Linked DNA regions of Homo sapiens. The protein of the gene in region 2 purifies or fractionates together with the protein of the main gene of each other region. This does not show direct contact. Each region holds a gene or a part of one and is shown on either strand. Other genes may lie near its edges.

What was found. Proteins that work in one complex are often made in the same cells at the same time.
Region 1: the proteins of CYB5A (region 2) and SOD2 fractionate together in Homo sapiens (co-fractionation; one large-scale study listed by BioGRID). This does not show direct contact.
Region 3: the proteins of CYB5A (region 2) and MXRA7 fractionate together in Homo sapiens (co-fractionation; one large-scale study listed by BioGRID). This does not show direct contact.
Region 4: the proteins of CYB5A (region 2) and ZNF185 purify together in Homo sapiens (co-immunoprecipitation; one large-scale study listed by IntAct). This does not show direct contact.

What each region holds. Positions count from the first base shown.
Region 1 is NC_000006.12:159,672,742-159,676,241, reverse strand, and holds part of SOD2 (superoxide dismutase [Mn], mitochondrial isoform A precursor), read left to right. Parts: 3' UTR 1-3,500. UniProt on the Homo sapiens protein: Destroys superoxide anion radicals which are normally produced within the cells and which are toxic to biological systems.
Region 2 is NC_000018.10:74,260,964-74,264,463, reverse strand, and holds part of CYB5A (cytochrome b5), read left to right. Parts: intron 1-986; coding exon 987-1,115; intron 1,116-3,500.
Region 3 is NC_000017.11:76,683,466-76,686,965, reverse strand, and holds part of MXRA7 (matrix-remodeling-associated protein 7), read left to right. Parts: intron 1-1,800; coding exon 1,801-1,894; intron 1,895-3,038; coding exon of another isoform or gene 3,039-3,072; exon of another isoform or gene 3,073-3,119; intron 3,120-3,500.
Region 4 is NC_000023.11:152,918,567-152,922,066, forward strand, and holds part of ZNF185 (zinc finger protein 185), read left to right. Parts: intron 1-416; coding exon 417-515; intron 516-1,761; coding exon 1,762-1,845; intron 1,846-2,140; coding exon 2,141-2,182; intron 2,183-3,500. UniProt on the Homo sapiens protein: May be involved in the regulation of cellular proliferation and/or differentiation.

The DNA.
Region 1 (3,500 bases), on a different chromosome or scaffold from region 2:
AATGGGATGGCTGGGTCAAATGGTATTTCTAGTTCTAGATCCCTGAGGAATCGCCACACTGTCTTCCACAATGGTTGAACTAGTTTACAGTCCCACCACCAGTGTAAAAGTGTTCCTATTTCTCCACATCCTCTCCAGCACCTGTTGTTTCCTGACTTTTTAATGATTGACATTCTAACTGGTGTGAGATGGTATCTCATTGTGGTTTTGATTTGCATTTCTCTGATGGCCCATGATGATGAGCATTTTTTTCATGTGTCTGTTGGATGCATGGATGTCTTCTTTTGAGAAGTGTCTCTTCATATCCTTCACCTACTTTTTGATGGGGTTTGTTTTTTTCTTGTAAGTTTGTTTGAGTTCCTTGTAGATTCTGGATATTAGCCCTTTGTCAGATGAGTAGATTGCAAAAATTTTCTCCCATTTTGTAGGTTGCCTGTTCACTCTGATGGTAGTTTCTTTTGCTGTGCAGAAGCTCTTGAGTTTAATGAGATCCCATTTGTCAATTTTGGCTTCTGTTGCCATTGCTTTTGGTGTTTTAGACATGAAGTCCTTGCCCATGCCTGTGTCCTGAATGGTACTGCATAGGTTTTCTTCTAGGGTTTTTATGGTTTTAGGTCTAACATTTAAGTCTTTAATCCATCTTGAATTAATTTTTGTATAAGGTGTAAGGAAGGGATCCAGTTTCAGCTTTCTACATGTGGCTAGCCAGTTTTCCCAGCACCATTTATTAAATAGGGAATCCTTTCCCCATTTCTTGTTTTTGTCAGGTTTCTCAAAGATCAGATAGTTGTAGATGTGTGGTATTATTTCTGAGGGCTCTGTTCTGTTCCATTGGTCTATATCTCTGTTTTGGTACTAGTACCATGCTGTTTTGGTTACTGCAGCCTTGTAGTATAGTTTGAAATCAGGTAGCGTGATGCCTCCAGCTTTGTTCTTTTGGCTTAGGATCGTTTTGGCAGTGCAGGCTCTTTTTTGGTTCCACATGAACTTTAAAGTAGTTTTTTCCAATTCTATGAAGAAAGTCATGGGTAGCTTGATGGGGATGGCATTGAATCTATAAATTACCTTGGGCAGTATAGCCATTTTCACGATATTGATTCTTCCTATCCATGAGCATGGAATGTTCTTCCATTTGTTTGTGTCCTCTTTTATTTCCTTGAGCAGTGGTTTGTAGTTCTCCTTGAAGAGGTCCTTCACATCCCTTGTAAGTTGGATTCCTAGGTATTTTATTCTCTTTGAGGCAGTTGTGAATGGGAGTTCACTCATGATTTGGCTCTCTGTTTGTCTGTTGTTGGTGTATAAGAATGCTTGTGATTTTTGCACATTGATTTTGTATCCTGAGATTTTGCTGAAGTTGCTTATCAAATTAAGGAGATTTTGGGCTGAGATGATGGGGTTTTCTAAATATAAAATCATGTCATCTGCAAACAGGGACAATTTGACTTCCTCTTTTCCTTATTGAATACCCTTTATTTCTTTCTCCTGCCTGATGGCCCTGGCCAGAACTTCCAACACTATGTTGAATAGGAGTGGTGAGAGAGGGCATCCCTGTCTTGTGCCAGTTTTCAAAGGGAATGCTTCCAGTTTTTGCCCATTCAGTCTGATATTGGCTGTGGGTTTGTCATAGATAGCTCTTATTATTTTGAGATATGTCCCATCAATACCTAATTCATTGAGAGTTTTTAGCATGAAGGGCTGTTGAATTTTGTCCAAGGCCTTTTCTGCATCTGTTGAGATAATCATGTGGTTTTTGTCTTTGGTTCTGTTTATATGCTGGATTACTTTTATTGATTTGTGTATGTTGAACCAGCCTTGCATCCCAGGGATGAAGCCCACTTGATCATGGTGGATAAGCTTTTTGATATGCTGCTGGATTCAGTTTGCCAGTATTTTATTGAGGATTTTTGCATTGATTTTCATCAGGGATATTGGTCTAAAGTTCTCTTTTTTTGTTATGTCTCTGCCAGGCTTTGGTATCAGGATGATGCTGGCTTCATAAAATGAGTTAGGGAGGATTCCCTCTTTTTCTATTGATTGGAATAGTTTCAGAAGGAATGGTACCAGCTCTTCCTTGTACCTCTGGTAGAATTCGGCTGTGAATCCATCTTGTCCTGGACTTTTTTTGGTTGGTAGGCTATTAATTATTGCCTCAATTTCAGAGCCTGTTATTGGTCTATTCAGGGATTAAACTTCTTCCTGGTTTAGTTTTGAGAGGGTGTATGTGTCCAGGAATTTATCTATTTCTTCTAGATTTTCTAGTTTATTTGCATAGAGGTGTTTATAGTATTCTCTGTGTACTCTGTATTTCTGTGGGATTGGTGGTGATATCCACTTTATCATTTTTTATTGCATTTATTTGATTCTTCTCTCTTTTCTTGTTTATTAGTCTTGCTAGCGGTCTATCAATTGTGTTTATCTTTTCAAAAAACCAGCTCCTGGATTCATTCATTTTTTGAAGGTTTTTTTGTGTCTCTGTCTCCTTCAGTTCTGCTCTGATCTTAGTTATTTCTTGTCTTCTGCTAGCTGTTGAATGTGTTTGCTCTTGCTTCTCTAATATTTTTAATTGTGATGTTAGAGTGTCAATTTTAGATCTTTCCTGCTTTCTCTTGTGGGCACTTAGTGCTGTAAATTTCCCTCTACACACTGCTTTAAATGTGTCCCAGAGATTCTGGTATGTTGTGTCTTTGTTCTCGTTGGTTTCAAAGAACATCTTTATTTCTGCCTTCATTTTGTTATGTACCCAGTAGTCATTCAGGAGCAGGTTGTTCAGTTTCCATGTAGCTGAGTGGTTTTGAGTGAGTTTCTTAATCCTGAGTTCTAGTTTGATTGCACTGTGGTCTGAGACAGTATGTTATAATTTCTGTTCTTTTACATTTGCTGAGGAGTGCTTTACTTCCAACTATGTGGTCAATTTTGGAATAGGTGCGATGTGGTGCTGAGAAGAATGTATATTCTGTTGATTTGGGGTGGAGAGTTCTGTAGATGTCTATTAGGTCTGCTTGGTGCAGAGCTGAATTCAATTCCTGGATATCCTTGTTAACTTTCTGTCTCGTTGATCTGTCTAATATTGACAGTGGGGTGTTAGAGTCTCCCATTGTTATTGTGTGGGAGTCTAAATCTCTTTGTAGGTCTCTAAGGACTTGGTTTATGAATCTGGGTGCTCCTGTATTGGGTGCATATATATTTAAGATAGTTAGCTCTTCTTGTTGAATTGATCCCTTTACTATCATGTAATGGCCTTCTTTGTCTCTTTTGATCTTTGTTGGTTTAAAGTCTGTTTTATCAGAGACTAGGATTGCAACCCCGGCCTTTTTTTTTGTTTTCCGTTTGCTTGGTAGATCTTCCTCCATCCTTTTATTTTGAGCCTATGTGTGTGTGTCTCTGTACGTGAGATGGGTTTCCTGAATACAGCACCCTGATGGGTCTTGACTCTTTATCCAGTGTGCCAGTCTGTGTCTTTTAATTGGAGCATTTAGCCCATTTACATTTAAGGTTAATAT
Region 2 (3,500 bases):
TGCCAGCTCTTGAGGCCACACTTAGACTAAGATGTCAGAGAAGTCAGTCTCAGGTGCAGGAGTCAAGAAAAAATAGATTGGGTAGAGAATAAGAGCAATTTTGAGAGCCTGATGGAAAAACCAAGCAGACATTACCAAAGGATGAAGGACACGAGCCTCATGCTTTTACTAAGCTGTATGAGTGACATGGGGAAGCAACTTATGTTGTTAGTGAAAGGTTCTTTCTTTCTCGCTCTCTTTTTTTTTTTTTTTTGAGACAGAGTCTCACTTTGTTGCCTAGGCTGGAGTGCAGTGGCGCAATCTCAGCTCACTGCAACCTCGGCCTCCTGGATTCAAGCGATTCTCAAGACTCAGCCTCCTGAATAGCTGGGACTACAGGTGCCCGCCACCACGGCTGGCTAATTTTTGTATTTTTTGTAGAGATGGGGTTTCGCCATGTAGGCCAGGTTGGTCTCGAACTCCTGAACTCAAGTGATCTGCCTAGGATTACAGGCGTGAGCTACCGTGCCCGGCCGGGAAAGGTTGTTTTTAAATTTTTTTTTACTTTTATCTTTTTGAGGGTCTCCCTCTGTTACCCAGGCTGGAGTGCAGTGGTGCAGTCACTGCTCACTGAAGCCTCAGCCCCTTGAGCTTGTGCCATCCTCCCACCTCAGCCTCTCATGTATCTGGGACTGCAGGGGCATGCCACCGTGCCCAGCTAATTTTTTAAAATTGTATTTTATAGTTATGGGGTCTCACAATGTTGCCCAGGTTGGCTTTGAACTTGGGCCCAAGTGATTCTGCTGCCTAGGCCTATTGTACTTGCATGATGGAAATGGAATATAAAGGCCTGTGTTGTTTTAATCCACATTTATGGACAAGTTAGTCTCCTGTTGTCATCTGTGTCTTCTGAAGGAGTCACCTGTTTGGTTAAATAAATTCTGGCCGTTTTCTCTTAATTCATTTGCCTGAAAAAAAAATTTTTATTCTACCTCTCCTTTGAACAGCATCCTGGTGGGGAAGAAGTTTTAAGGGAACAAGCTGGAGGTGACGCTACTGAGAACTTTGAGGATGTCGGGCACTCTACAGATGCCAGGGAAATGTCCAAAACATTCATCATTGGGGAGCTCCATCCAGTAAGTACATTTTGGGGGCCCTTTCTTATTTGTATTTAAGGCTATCAGATGACCTTACCCTAGTCTGTAAGCTTGCATGTATACACATTTTAAAAGGAGTAAAGCAAAAACAACTCCTGATTTTAGGACACCATTTTTTGTTATAAATAAATTGACCAAAAATGTCTTTGCATTTCACTGTTGCTTTTTTTTTTTTTTTTTTGAGACAGGTCTTACTCTGTCACCCAGGCTGGAGTGCAGTGGCACGATCATGGCTCCCTGCAGCCTCAACCTCCTGGGCTCAAGCCATCCTCCTGCCTCAGCCTCTTGGTAGCTGGGACTACAGGCACACACCTCCACGCCTGATAAATTTCATAGTTTTTGTAGAGACGGGGTTTCACCGTGTTGCCCAGGCTGGTCTCAAACTCCTGGACTCAAGCGATCCACCCACCTCGGCCTCTCAAAGTGTTGGGATTACAGGCGTGAGCCCCCACACCTGGCCTGGTTGCATTGTTTACTGGCACTTCGTTTTAGTCAGCAGGCTCCACCCCACAGCCATGCACTGGGGAGTCTGCTCAGTCCTAGAAATTCCATGGGGCAGCACGTTTTACAAGGTGGGGAGAATCAACCCAGCATTGCTTTCTTTCCTTTTCTGACCAAAATATTTTTATTAAGAACCCCACTTCTACTTTCATTAGGCCAAGGATATTTTAGTTCTAAAAAATGATTTAAAAAATATAAAAACGGAGCTATGTGAAATGAATAAGCTCTGCCTTCTGTAGAACTAGCACATTGTCCATATTCTACTCACTGTACCCCAGACCTTCGAGAATATCAGCTCTGGACCAATTCATTGACCAACTTTTGGAAAACACTGGCCTAATTTGGCTTTTCTTTTCTTTTTTTTTTTTTTTGAGACAGAGTCTTGCTCTGTTGCCCAGGCTGGAGTGCAGTGGCGCGATCTCGGCCCACTGCAACCTCCACCTCCTGGGTTCAAGCAATTCTCCTGCCTTAGCCTCCCAAGTATCTGGGATTACAGGCACAGGCCACCATGCCTGGCCAATTGTTTTGTATTTTTAGTAGAGATGGGGTTTCGCCATGTTGGCCAGGTTGGCCTTGTACTCCTGACCTCAGGTAATCCACCTACCTAGGCCTCCCAGAGTGCTAGGATTACAGGTGTGAGTCACCGCACCTAGTCCTAATTTGGCTTTTCTATAAACACTGTGCTGTGTTACGGTTTTAGACCCCTCTGTGGCAGTTGTAAATGACCATGTTAAATGTTACTAGTCTGTCAACCTAAGTTATCAGGAAAATCGCTGAAAACTTGGAAAGAAGTTGCCGAGCGCTCTGAGCTTCTGGAGTGGATCCTGGGGCCGCACACTCAGCTGCCCTGTCCACCTCTGGGAGTGCCTGGCTCCGTCCTGCCTTCCCACTTGTGGTGCATGGTTAGCAGCCCGCCAGAAGGGGACAAAGACCTGCTAGGAGCCCGCTCTGCTCTCGTAAGAAAAAAATGGAGAGGCAAATAGCCTCATTCTAAGTGAGCAAACTGAGAAACTCTTAAAGAATATAGGAAAAGTCTTATCGTATACCACTGATGATCCCTGTAATGACTGTGAATGAAGAAGAGGTTACATTAGGTTCTTTGTAGAAGGCTCGAAAGTAGGAAATCCATTTGAGAACAACTTCATTGAGTTGGGAGGTTTGTTTGATTTTGTTTTTGGTGGTAGGAGATATGTACTTTGAGGGAGTAAGCTTCATTCATCTGACAAGTTTATTTGCCCCGATATTTTCATCCCATACTTCACAAAGGCAAAGTGTCTTAGGGTCATCAGGGAGGCCTGCCGTTACACATGCCTGATCCCATCCTTGTTTCCAGCTGTGGGTCAGGTTTCAGGCCCTGACTGTGGCACTTCTGCTTCACCTGCCCACTGGGCTTCCCCCTGGCCAGCCTTTAAACACACTGTATTTTTGACAGCTTCAGCCTGAAGTTGAAATAGTTTATGACTCTAAAACTGGGAGACTGCAGGGCTTAACTGAAGATATCATACACGTAAGAGATACATGCACAATCTCAAATGGAATTTGAGAGGACAGAAGGGAAGAATCAGTCTTCAGCTCCTCCCTGAATTACGTGTCGCAATCTGAGTCTAATAAATGTGTGTGCACATCAGCATGTACAGAGAGCTGTCATGGGTGCTGTTCGAAACTTTGGAACTCTAGATAGAAAATATCTCTTGGCACTTAATCTGCTACTAATTTTTGCTGTTAAATCAGATGGATCAAACTTTGTGTTTAATAGCTAAATGTTGAATCTGAAATGGTAATTACTGAATTATAATTTTAAAAAGTCTCAAAGTCAGCATTTTGGAAGTGGTACTTTCATAGATTTTTAAATTCCATAATGTG
Region 3 (3,500 bases), on a different chromosome or scaffold from region 2:
AGTCCCCCAGCACTGTCACCAGCCTCCCCCCTTATCTGCACCGCTGCTCCTGAACATCCCCCACCCCCAGCGCCTCCTGCCATCTTAGCCTCCTGCCATCTCTAGCAAGGCAGGGAAAGGAAAGGTTTATGGCTCCAGCTGTTGGAAGAATGTGTGAGCACCTCCAGCCCCTCTGCAGTACGAGGCAGCCTCAGAGGTTAATTATTAGTGTCGCTAAAATGACTTCCCTGAGCGACTAGGTGAATTCACAGGAGACTGGAGGAAGAAACCTCCCCCGTCCCTCGGAGGCTGTCACGTTGAATTCTGGTCTAGCAAAACTGGATGCGCTGCCTGGTGCACTGCATGTGACTGAGCGAAATCCTTTTCAAGTCGTTTGTTCTGTCTGGCTCAGAAAACAAAACTAATCAGACTTGCCCCATAAATTGAAACCTAAGACTGGGACCAAGGCAGGATTTTGTATGTTTTCTTTTTTTGGGGGGTAGGGGGATACTGGAATCTTACTCTATTGCCCAGGCTGGAGTACAGTGGCGCGATCTCGGCTCACTGCAACCTCTGCCTCCCGGGTTCAAGCGATTCTCCTGCCTCAGCCTCCTGAGTAGCTGGGATTACAGGCGCCTGCCACCACGCCCGGCTAATTTTTTGTATTTTTAGTAGAGACGGGGTTTTGCCACATTGGCCAGGTTGGTCTCGAACTCCTGGCCTCAAGTGATCCACCTGCCTTGGCCTCCCAAGGTGCTGGGATTACAGGCATGAGCCACCACACCCAACCAGATGTTTGGGTTCTGAATTCGCATCTAGAACCTTCTTCCTTTCACCCTGAGAGCCCCCCCGCCTCCCCATCGGTCCACATCAGCCTATCCGGTAGCATGAAGGCTGCAAGCTAGAGGGGAGGGGCCTGGCTTTTCGGGCTGCTGGACAGGATATGGAGGGACAGAGAGGGCAGCACTTCCAGAATAGCAGCTGAGGATCTCTCTATGCCTCCCTCACTGGGTCCTTTAGTTAGTGGAGGTCGATAAGAGGCCAGCCAGCTCTGCCCGACACCTGCTGGATTCAGGAACCAAGAGGTTGCTCCCCCATGGGGCTTTTCCCTCTGGAAGCTCAGCTTTTCTCTCCTCACCGTGGCTCATGTGCCCGGAGCCTGTGTCCACTCCAGGCCACAGGTCCTGGCTTCCTCTGTGCCCACCACCTACCCATCCATGTGCCCTCTTCAGGCCTCGAGATCTGTCCGTTTTTTGCAGGCAGCAATGGGGGGTCTCCCCTCGGGGACTGGCAAATCGGGCTCTGCCTCTTCAGCGGTACACACGTCAAACCTGCTGCAGCAAATCCCGCATCCCTGGCCTGGCCACTGTGGGCTGCCTGGATGCGTGTTTTCAGATTTCCAATAGCCACAGGGGGTGGGGGGATGACACAAGCCTCCCCAAGCCCAGGCAGGCGTGGTGTGTGTCCCAAGATGAGCTGTGCTCTGCTTGCCGGAGTTGTCGCCTCTGAGCTCAGTAGCCGAGAGGACCTGCTGGGCAGGGCCAGGGCAAGGCAGAGCACTGCAGATGTTGGGAGGGATGTGGCATCTGGAGACAGCTGTGGACTAGGAGTAGGACTGCTTTCTCTCTGGCTGTCTCGTTGTAGGATTTAAGGGAAAGCTATGGAACGAGAGGGGGTATAGGCGCTGGGGTGAGATGTCTCTGATAGCCAGATGTGGCCTCTGCTTGAGGTGTTTCTTTTTAAACCTAGGGAAAGGGGGCCGGGGTTTGTGGGGCCAGCCTCTACAGCACTCCTGGCACTTACTGGGTCCCCCCTCCACAGGAGAAGGCTTCTCCTTCAAATACAGCCCCGGGAAGCTGAGGGGAAACCAGTACAAGAAGATGATGACCAAAGAGGAGCTGGAGGAGGAGCAGAGGTAGGCTGCAGCCCCTTCGCTGGCGCCTGGCGGGCTCTTGGGGGAGGGGGGTGCCCCTCTGAGCCCTTCATGTTCCTGCCCCTTGGCAGAAGGGCCCAGAAAGGAGGTGGGGCTCCTACACGCTCTGCCCAACCACCGCCCCACCTTCCCAGTTTAGGAGTTCTTTCCTGCCCTGGTCAGCCAGGCTCGCACACCCCTGGCACCCCTCCCTGGCACTGACCAGAAGGAGGCCACTGGTGATGGGGGATACAGAGCCCATTTACTGCACCCCCCCACCCCCTCCACACCCCACTGCCCCCATCTAAAGAAATGAGATGCCAGGAAAGAGCCTGGAGCAGACCTGGCTGTCACTCACACACACAGTCCCCAACAGAGCTGATTTCTCCATTTCTCCTTCGGGACACAGCGGATTCTTGGTGCTCATCCTTCAGCGGCCTCCCAGGCCGGCGCCTGCAGCAGCGCCTTGTAGCTCCGGGCAGTGCAGCTATGGCTTCTCGTTGTTGGAATTGGCTCCCCCTTCCCATTTGGACACCCCCTGCACAGCCACTGGGCACCCCGCCACCTTTTCCCTCCACACCATCCTGCTGGGCGGGGAAGGGGTGCGCTGGGCACAGTGGGACAGCTGGGGAGGTCTCAGCAGAGGGACAGTCCTTTGCACCAGGCGCAGCAGGCTCCTGGTGCTCACCCACACTGCTGCCCTTCTGCAGCGTGGCCTGGAGTCCTTTGGTTAAAGCAGAAGTCTAGGTGGTAGCTGTGCCATTTTCCAAGCCTGGCGACCCAGAGCAGCTTGTGGGAATCACCCCCTACTTGTCAGCAGAAACCAGCGGTCTAGGGTCCGAGCAGGAGGGGTGGTTTATGATTTTGGAATCAGAACTCAACTGCCCTCTCATGGCTGCATGCCAAGCCACCCGCCGGGCAGCCCTCTAACCTCACAGCTGCTCTGCCGGTGACAGGCCCTGTCTCCCCTCCCGCTGCTGGCATCAGCGCTCTCGACCCTCAGCAGGAAAGCTCTTCACCCTGGGTGGGTGGGGGGCGGGCAGTGTAAGCACAGCCAGGAGGAAGAGCCCTGGCAGGAGCCCCGAGTCCTCAGGTGCTGAGGATGCTGCCGCTTGGCATGACCAGGTTTGCTGCATTTATATTTCAGGATTGAGCTGACCTCTGACCTCACTTCCCTGTAGCAAGTTCCTTAGGTCCTGAGCCACAAATATTCTTGCAAATCCTTTTGGTAAGGACACTGATTTCTTAGACTAGTGGTGCTCCCCTTCTACTGCGTGCTAACGTGCCCCCAAACAACTGACGCGGCCTCAACCTCCCCTCCTCCATCGCCTTCATAACCGATTAATACATTTCCCACCTGAGCCCTTCTCATTCTTCTCAAGCACGAGGAATCTCTGGCAGAAGAGGCCCCGTCTGGGGGCAGAGGTTCCTGGAGGGGAGTTAAGTCCCTGAGTTCCTGGAGGGGGCCTAATGGGCCGGCAGGTTGGGGTGCTAGCGCCCCCTCGCAAGGCTGGGGGAACTGTCACCCTGGGACCTCAGGCTTCGGAAATGTGGATGTCGTCACCCTGCAGCCTTGGGTCTCACCCTGAGAAGATGAGGCAGCTTCTGC
Region 4 (3,500 bases), on a different chromosome or scaffold from region 2:
GCATTGTGTGCCTAAATCTGAGCTGCTTCTTGGATAGAAACCTTCGGGTTTTCCCTTAGTGCTCCCCTTGGGGTCCCTTTCAAAGCCCCCCACCCCCCACTGCATGCTCAGGGAGGAGGGTTCTCTGGACAGAGGTGTGAATTGTGTCTCTAGTTCCCAGGGGACCACATCTTTCCGTTGTTTGTCCCTTGCCTCCATCATCCAGGGTTGGGGAGCTGCTGGGTAACCTTTCTGGGGAAGGGGAGAGGCTCGAACAGGGAGGGAGGGGAGAGCTGGTCTCAGGGAGGAACAAGTGGCATGACCTAAGGCCCAAAGGCAGAGATATTGACTTGCCTCGTCATTGTTGTTGAAAGCCAGGAAGCCAAGCTGCTGAGGGTGGCAGCCTATGACAGGAAAGCGCCTCTCCCCTCTCTTAGGGCACCCTACAATATCAGGCGCAGCTCTACATCAGGGGACACCGAGGAGGAGGAGGAGGAGGAGGTGGTGCCATTCTCCTCAGATGAACAGAAACGGAGGTAATGGAATGGTGCCTTTTGGGCATCCCGGGGGGCAGGGCAGGAGCCTGAGTCTTCGAAGACTGCTGGAATGAATTGTACTGGTTGGGGTGACAAAATGCACAACACGTAGGCCATCAGCGGTAGCCCACGGAGCATGAGAATAGGTGTCATTCTCTGAGTGCCAGAACCACCCACTCAGTGTTGGACCAGCTGAGGGGCCCTTGAGAACCTTCTGTGGGGTAGAACCTAGGTAATGTGGGTCCGGGGAAAAGCCTCCTCATGTGGAGGCTCTTCAGGGCTCTAAATCGGTTTGTTAGAAAGGGCCCTGAGACAGTTGAACAAAAATATTCAGGGAGAAGCCACCTGCACAGTGCCCTCTATCTGCATGATCTGCATGCCTTGGGGGTTCTGAATGCCCCGGACCCCAAACTGAGCTCCAGGCATGCACAGCAGTGGGAGTGTGCCCCATGCTGCTGAAATTCTACCCTAGTCTCTGCGCCAAGCTGCCCTCGTCCACACAGGCCAGCAAAGTTCCATGGACCCTTGCCCCTCCTCAGTCCTCTGTCCATGGGGACTGACCACATACCACCCAGTGCTGGTGAACTATGACAGGAAGGGTTTGTTAAGCACCTTTTGTATGCCTTTGGCTTGGGGCCTGTACAGCAGTTGGGCCCTGAGGAAATAAAGCCCTCCCCTCCCTGGGCTCAGCCAGCCACCAGGTCCATATCTGCTGACCCATCTGTGGCGCAGGAATCACAGCAAAGCCCCATTGCCAAAGGCCCTGGCAGATTGGCTATCCTCAGGGAACAGTTCACAGTGGCAGGGGCCCCCAGGCCTGGGTGGAGCAAGGAAAAGAGCCAGAAGCTAGGAGCTGCCTAGCATTGAATGCCAGCTCTGCCACCTGCTAGGTGAGTGCTCTTGGGCAAATAATGAAAGCTTCTTGGACTCAGTTTCCTCATCTGTAAATCACAGAGGATACTAGCGTCTACTTTCCTGGATTGAGAAGAGCAATAAGCCAATGCGAGGATGTTGGCATCTGGCGCAGAGCCGGGCACATGCCACATGCTCCATAAACATGGGCTGCCCTTCCTTCAGGTTCTACATTTCCTTTGAATAGTCCTTGGAGCAGGTGCAAATCTGGTTTCTCTCACCCCTTGCCTCCCTGGGGTGGCCCTAAGTCACCCCGAGTCCATCCCAGGCTAGGCTGGCAGAGCATGTCCAGCTTGGCACCCATCAGATGCTCCCCCATCCCGTGTCACCCCAGGTCAGAGGCTGCAAGCGGTGTTCTGAGGAGGACAGCTCCCCGGGAGCACTCCTACGTCCTGTCAGCGGCCAAGAAGAGCACTGGGTGAGTTGCCACCAACTGGCTCCAGGCTCTAGGACAGCTCTCCTCTCCTCAGAGCTCCAGCCTTCTCTGGCTGATGAAAGGGTGGGTGGAGAGATCACCCCCAAGGGCCTTCCTAGCTGAGCCTTCTCAGATTCTCAGATGTACTTTCTAGAAAATGGAGAGGTCTGGCGGCTACCACCAGGGACAGTGAAGTGCCGGGAATGGAGAGGGCCCAGGACCCTCTGAGGTAGAGCGGTCTTGATGTCACCTGCCCACGGGCTCTGCCCAAAGCATTGCCTTTCTGCTTCCTTTCCAGCAGTCCTACCCAGGAGACACAGGCACCGTTTATCGCGAAGAGGTAAGTGTCATCAAGGGACACCTTGGAGGCCTGTTACTGGCCACAGGAAGGCCTTCCGTCAGCAGGGGTGTAGTGTGGGAGCTGTGGAGAGGGGATGTGGATGTGGGGGACTACTGTCCCTGAGCAGGGGGAGTTGTGAGGGGCTGGGGGCTTCTGTCTGGAGGCCTGGCAAGCACCTGGGTGGCTGTGGTAGCATATGTGGTCAAGCTCTTCCATTTGCCAATGGCTAATGGGGCTGGGCCCCTGACCCAACGTGGAGCATTTCCAAGGCCCTCTGGGAGTTGTTCCCCTGCCCCTGTTGCTTGCCTGATGCCTTGCCTTCTGCTCTCATCCAGGATCAAAACCTGGGCCATCAGGAGAACTTCCCCTGGGAGGTGACTGTGACATTGGAGATGGGCCCTAAAGGGTGAACAGGGCTTAACAGGGAATGATCAGAACGTCGGGATACTCCAGCTGAATGAGGGAGGGGTGTCACCATTAGTTGAGACAGGGCACCTTCTGGAGGAGGAAAATATTCGGGGGAAAGCAAGAAAGAAACTTCTGGAAACTTGAATTTGAGGGACTTCCAGTTGAGTGGACAGGGAAGGCCTCTCTCTGTGCTGAGGTGGCTAGCTGGGGACTGCAAACCCAAGAGAAGACAGCATGCCAACTGCCCCAGGCAGAGGGCCCCAGTGCACAGGCCCGGGGTGGGACTAGCTTGCTGTGTTGGAAGACCAGGAAGTTGGCAGGAATACAGAGAGCAGGGATGGTGGCAGCACAAAGGAAGTGACAGAGAACGGGGGGCGGTGGGGGGGTCTTCCTGGCTGCATTTGGTTCCTGTGGTTTCTGTAACGCAGTACCAAAAACTGAGTGGCTTAAAACATCAGAAAGGGATTCTCTCCCGGTTCTGGAGACCAGAAGTCTAGATCAAGGTGTTAGCAGGGTGGGTTCCTTCTGGAGGCTTTGAGGGAGAAACCATCCCAGGCCACTCTCCTGGCTTCTGCTGGTGGTTGGTGATCCTTGGTGTTCCTCGGCTTGTACCTGCATCACTCCAGTCTGTGCGTCTGTCTTCACATGGCCTTCTCTTCTCTGTGTGTCTGTGTCCAGATTTCCCTCTTCTTACAAGGACAGCGGTCATTGGATTTAGGACCCATCCTACTCCAGTATGACCTCATCTTACCTGATTACATCTGCAAAGACCCTATTTCCAAATAAGGTTACAGTCACAGGTTCCAGGGGACATGAATTTTGGGGGGACACTATTCAACCCAGTATGCTGTCCTTATCCTGAGCTGGAGTCACTGAACCCCCAGCCTGGGCCACCTCTTGGCCGTGATCC